Linked DNA regions of Homo sapiens: region 2 is linked to region 1. Evidence: fine-mapped expression QTL. A gene starts in region 1. The other region holds a variant in brackets. All regions are shown on one strand. Distances are between the middles of the regions. Region 1 holds the start of RGP1 (RGP1 partner of RAB6A GEF complex). Region 2 has its middle 12 kb from the start of NPR2.

The links. PIP is the estimated chance that this variant, and not a neighbour inherited with it, causes the effect. A credible set is the group of variants that fine-mapping cannot tell apart.
Region 2: its variant is the best candidate, but not a certain one, in a credible set for the expression of RGP1 in non-classical monocytes (Schmiedel 2018, PIP 0.66).

What each region holds. Positions count from the first base shown.
Region 1 is chr9:35,747,761-35,750,546 of GRCh38, forward strand. RGP1 (RGP1 partner of RAB6A GEF complex) reads left to right here and starts at 1,527. Exons shown (of 9, transcript NM_001080496.3): 1 at 1,527-1,648; 2 at 1,977-2,111; 3 at 2,483-2,619. The coding sequence starts at 1,996. It overlaps GBA2 (glucosylceramidase beta 2), which reads right to left and starts at 1,468. Exons shown (of 17, transcript NM_020944.3): 1 at 586-1,468. The coding sequence starts at 944. RefSeq lists silencers at 1,167-1,566, 1,687-1,736, 1,767-1,816.
Region 2 is chr9:35,778,427-35,781,212 of GRCh38, forward strand. It overlaps a transcript of RGP1 not described here. Among named protein-coding and RNA genes, the nearest start is that of NPR2, 12 kb to the right of the region's middle. The variant C/T (reference allele first, on the strand shown) is at 1,148.

The DNA of each region.
Region 1 (2,786 bases):
ATCAAGAGCTCTCTATCCCAGAACAGAATGACAGCACCTTCTCATCACTTCAGAGGTGAGGGCAGGGAGGCTCTTCTTACCTACTCCCTGGAGCTAAAGCTTGAAGAAAGAAGCAGTAGTGTTGGGACTCTAACAGTGTGTCTAATGAGGTACAGAGAATGCCCCAGCTGCTTGTGGGAAATAAGGGGTTGAGACCCCCCCACCCCCAAATAAAACAACATTGTGTTAGTATCACAGCAGCCAGATTATCCTTTCCTACCTTGCCACAAAGTATAGCTAATCCCAAAGGGAAGTCATTGGAAACCAGTATGTGAGAAGAGCCTGAATGGGAAAGGCTGATTGCATGACCAAATGTTCCTACCCTTTCCTTCTGAAAAGACAAAACACTGGGAGGGAAGGGTGTTGCAAAGAGATGTGACCTGGTCTCACGGTCCAAAACCACAGGCCTAAAATATGCCAGGGATAGGGACCGCTTCACTCAGACAAGAAGCCCAACTGCTTTCTTGCCCTTTCCCACCTCTGCTAGAAGTTTTGAGCTGGAACAAAGTGAAGCCAAAGGCATTCTAGGCAATGGGGTCTACTCACCTCAAGCCCATGCCTATATGCTTTATCATGTTGCTTAGGGAGACGTTGTTAGCTTGAAAGGGTTTCCTCTTCTCTGTAAACTCATGAGCCAGACAGATGCGCCAGCCAAAGGGAGGCACCTGGTAGCCCATAGCTTTACCCTCATAGGAAACCATCAGCTGCCCAGAGTCCTCCGGATTGCAGCAGTCCGTCTCTTTTGGGGGTCGGCTGTCTTCGGGACTCTTACAGTCTGTAACCTGCACATCCTTGGTGCCGCCAGTCTCTTCAGGGCAATAAACTTGTGGATCCTCTTTGGCACAGCTTATCTGCTCCGAGGCTGGGACGCCGGTTCCCATGTTCCCTGGATCCTGGGTCCCCATGACCTCGATGGCGCCAAGTCCCGAGCCCTCGGATACTAAGTATCTCGCCAGCCTATTCCAGATGCGGGCGCCGGTCGTTGTTAGGTATCGTCCCGGAGGGCCGGGCGTTGGGGAAAGCTTAAATGAGCTGGTGTTTCAGTGGAGCCGGGGAGCTCTTGCTTCAGTGGGGGCGGCGACAGCAAAGAAGCCGCCTTGGGCTCTCCTTCGGTTGTCTCTGTAGGTCCTGGACGGGAAGGGTCGGGCCTCGTCGTCATTGAGCCGACGATTAGCTCGCCCGGCCAAAGGGCGACTGGGCCCGCAGAGAGGGGAGGAGCCGCGGGGCCAGCCCACCAGGCACCGCCCCGGGACGGGCCCGCAAGGCACCGCCCCCGGGACCTCGGCCCGGCCCCTGGGCCACGGCACCGGGTCCCCCAGGATTGGGCGCCAGGTCCCGCCGGCCGGCTCCGGGGCAGCGCCCGCGCCCAGGTGCCAGCCCGTGGGAAGGTGACCCTGGGCGCCGGGATGACCCGAGCCCTTTCCGGTCTGGCCTGCCGGGCGCTTCCGGCCGGAAGGGACTCCGCGGAGGGTGGGGGACCGAAGGGAAGTCCCGCCTCTACCGCCCAGCGGACGCCGCCGCCGCCGCCGCCGCCGCGTACCTAGCCAGGTCCCTGAGGGGCGGGCAGATGAGGCCTAGGGGTGCCGATCCCTAGTGTCGACTATGCGAGGTGACTAGCGGCGGTGATCTTGGGCTGGGACGTGGAACTTTGAGGAAAGGGGGAGCGGAGGCCAGTTTGGGAACTCCGCGGGGGTGCCCAGGGAGAAGAACCCGTCGCACAGGGGCTGGGGTCTAGGGCCCAGAGCGATGTCCTCCCCCTGGGCAGTACTGAGTCTTCAGTCGCCTCCCTCCCACCCGCCTACCCCTCCTATATCCAGGAGCTCCCTCGGGCACCACGGTGCTGACCACCCCTGTCCTCAGCCCTCAGCCCTAGGTGCTCACCGCAACGCCCCTCCCTGTCAAGGTGCTGACCTCCGCCCCGCCTTGTTTCCTTCTAGATCTGATTCCGGAGCTGCCATGATTGAAGTGGTAGCAGAGCTCAGCCGGGGTCCTGTATTTTTGGCTGGGGAGGCGCTGGAGTGTGTAGTGACCGTCACCAACCCCCTTCCGCCCACGGCCACTTCTGCATCCAGGTGGGGATGCTGGCACTGAAGGTGGTGGCCCTTCTGGGAAGAAGCCAGATTATCTCTGGGGCTGAGGCAGAGCTCAGGTTGTCCTGTAGCGACACCACCTCCTCTTGCTCACTGTGCTGTCATTGTAGGAGAGGGCTCTTTAACAGAAGATGTGGATGACATAGCTGTACGCTTTCCTTCCCCTCCCCCGTTCCCCTTTTTACGCACAGTCTGCTACTCTTTATTTAATGGTTTCTCTTTGGGATTGTGGATTTCCTGATCACTAGGACAGCCATCTAACCTTGTTGGTTAAGATGGTGTGATAGGGAGCTTGGGAAAGCATTTGTGAGGTCAGGAACTACCTCTGATGCCTCCTTTTCCTTTTCCCACAGTGAGGCCCTGGCCTGGGCCAGTGCCCAAATCCACTGCCAGTTCCATGCCAGTGAGAGTCGAGTAGCACTGCCTCCTCCTGACTCTAGTCAGCCAGATGTCCAGCCCGACAGCCAGACTGTCTTTCTGCCACACCGAGGTTAGAGAGGGGCATTTGCCTGGGAGAGGGGGGGTGCGGAGGGTGTGTGTGGAGGCATTGTCACCCATGGGTGAAGTTGTTAATTGTTCTTGTTCTTATAGTCCCTGTCATGCTGGGGATGTTGGGGAGCATGACTATTGCTTTAGGGGTAGAAGACTATTCCCATT
Region 2 (2,786 bases), 31 kb after region 1:
TAAAGCATAATTAAATTTCTGGCCCCTTCTCTAAAGTCCCTCAATTATTAATCATATTAACTCTGTAGAAGGATGTATCACAACATTATACTGAAAAATAAGCTGAATATACAAAAGTGTTCAAGCAGTCAGAATACTTTGGAATATAATATGACATGTCAAACTGGTGTCTGACATGGATGGCTTCTGGGTGGATGCAAGTCCCTAAATGTCCAGCCTTCCTTTTGTGCATTGGCTTTGCCTGCCTACATACCCACTCCCTCCTCTCGAATGCACAAATAATGCACATTCGCCTTCCTGTTTGCTTTCTCTTAAGCCCAAGGCTTGTTAATCTGGGATCCTTTAGCTCCTAGATCCACGTGCACCTGAAATGATATGTAAAATGTTGTGGAATAATATGTATATGTGCTTTTTATATTTTAATGGGGAAAAGAGAGTATACATGGCTTTCATCTGATGTTCTATCTCCAGTCTATCTCTGTCTTCTTTATTCTGCCTGAACTTTCAAACTCCTGGTTCCTTCTGTCACTCAAAAGATGACTTTGCTTCCCCATTGAGGAATGCAGTTGAGCTCCTTATTTCATATAACCTTCCCTTCATTTCAATATATTATAGAGGATGTTGAGTAAGGTTTTTTTCTATTGCCCTGGAATTGGTGACTAGGGTCCAAAGCTGGGACAAAGAGGACTAAATACTGCACGTTCTAGAGAGAGTTGCTAATAATTGGATCAGAGCTCCTCTCCAGGGCTTACAAAGAGGTAGCAGAAGTGGCCCTGCAACTTCCAGCCAACCCATACCTTACCACCCCACCTCCATTCCCAGGCTATATAAGATAAAAGATGACTGAAGGGAGGCTGTCATGAGCCTAGCAGGGAGTACTTTTCCCTCCTTTCCCCCCTTAAAGTAAGCAAGGGAGTATGAAAGAGATCTACATGAAAGAGAGATTGATTTCTCATTCCTTGGTTAAACTATCTGTTTAGACAGTGGATTTGTTCAGCTCCGCACCTGTCTGAGAAGAGGAAAGGCAATTAGAGAAAGGAGGAAGGGCAGAGTAAGGGGATAGTAGTGGAATAGTCTGCATTCATTCTGTTTGGCTTAGCAAGGGTATGTGAGTTTCTGTGATCAAAGGGACACTGAGGAAGATCGC[C/T]GGGCTTGAGCCATCATGCTGGTAACCCATCCAAAAGGCTGCCACTGAACAGAAGTTAGGAGGGTTAAAGAGATGGCTTGGATCAGGATTCTCTGCATTAGGGCACAACTCAGTGGAGAAGCCCAGTAGGACCTTCTAAAGAACTCACATAACTGTCTCATAAGAGAGCCAGCATCTTTTTTTTTAAGATGGGGTCTGTTGCCTAGGCTGGGGTATAGTGTTGTGATCATGGCTTATTGCAGCCTGAATCTCTTGGGCACAAGTGATCCTCCTGCCTCAGCCTTCTGAGTATCTGGGACTGCAGGTTATGTGCCACCACACTCGGCTAATTAAAAAAAAATTTTCTTAGAGACAGGGTCTCTCTACGTTGCCCAGGCTGGTCTCAAACTCCTGGGCTCAAGTGATCCTCCTGCCTCAGCCTTCCAATGCCTTGGGCTTACAGGCATGAGCCACCATGTGCAAGAAAGATAGCATTTTGACATCTGCCAAACAACAGGTTGGCATGGTCTGTCAGCAAACAGTGGTTTGTGATAACTACCTTGTTAAATAAAAAGAGAGTTGTTCTTTTCCTCCCTGCCCTCCTCCTAGTTCTCAACCACCAAGGAGCTAAAACCCTTCTAGAGAACCTTCCAGAGAACTAGAAGAGGAGAAGCAGAATCAATAGAAGGGATCATATTCTTCTCTCCACCGCAGGTTCCTTAAGCCATGGCTTAAGATGAGTTCTGCATTGGACCTGAGACTGGAGTTTTAAGCCATATCGGACTGAGTCTTTAAATAACCAAAAGGGAGCAGAGTGTTATGGACTCTGACCATGATGTTGTGAAGAGGTACAAAGGAGACATTTGTCATGGCACAGATGAAGACTGATGGGTGGCAGGTTATGTTTATACCTGACCAAGCTCAATGCTCAACAGATAAGTTAAATTTATCCGTCACGAAATCTATCCCTGAATCCATTGTTCCACCTTTCCCTGCAGTCTCAGAGGAATTTCTTTTTCTTTTAAAGTGAATCCCTGGCTGGGCACGGTGGCTCACACCTGTGATCCCAGCACTTTGGGAGGATGAGGAGGGTGGATCACTTGAGCTCAGCAGTTTGAGATCAGCCTGGGCAACATGGTGAAACTCCATCTCTACCAAAAATACAAAACAAACAAACAAACAAACAAAAAACAACCAGGCGTGGTGGTGTGCATCTGTGGTCCCAGCTATTTGGGAGGCTGAAGTGGGAGGATTGATTGAGTCTCGGGGGATGGAGGTTGCAGTGAGCCAAGATGGCGCCACTGCACTCCAGCCTGGGTAACAGAGTGAGACTCTGTCTCAAAATATGACCAAATAAATAAAAATAAAGTGAATCCCTTCATCCATACTCATATATCCATTGAGAAAACATTTATTTGAATTCTAAAATATACTGCCAATGTAAGGTACAAAGATTAAGGACGATAAAATTCCTTCTCATGGAATACACAATCTAATGGGGCAGAAAGTACCTACTTTAAAACAAATGTATTAAATTAAATTGAAAAGTGGCCTGAGTAAGCCTCAAAAAAGACTAATTAGAACTCAAGGGAAGAGAAAACATTTCAGGCTGACAGAAAACCCATGGGCATAGAATAACATGACCCACTTAGAGGACTAT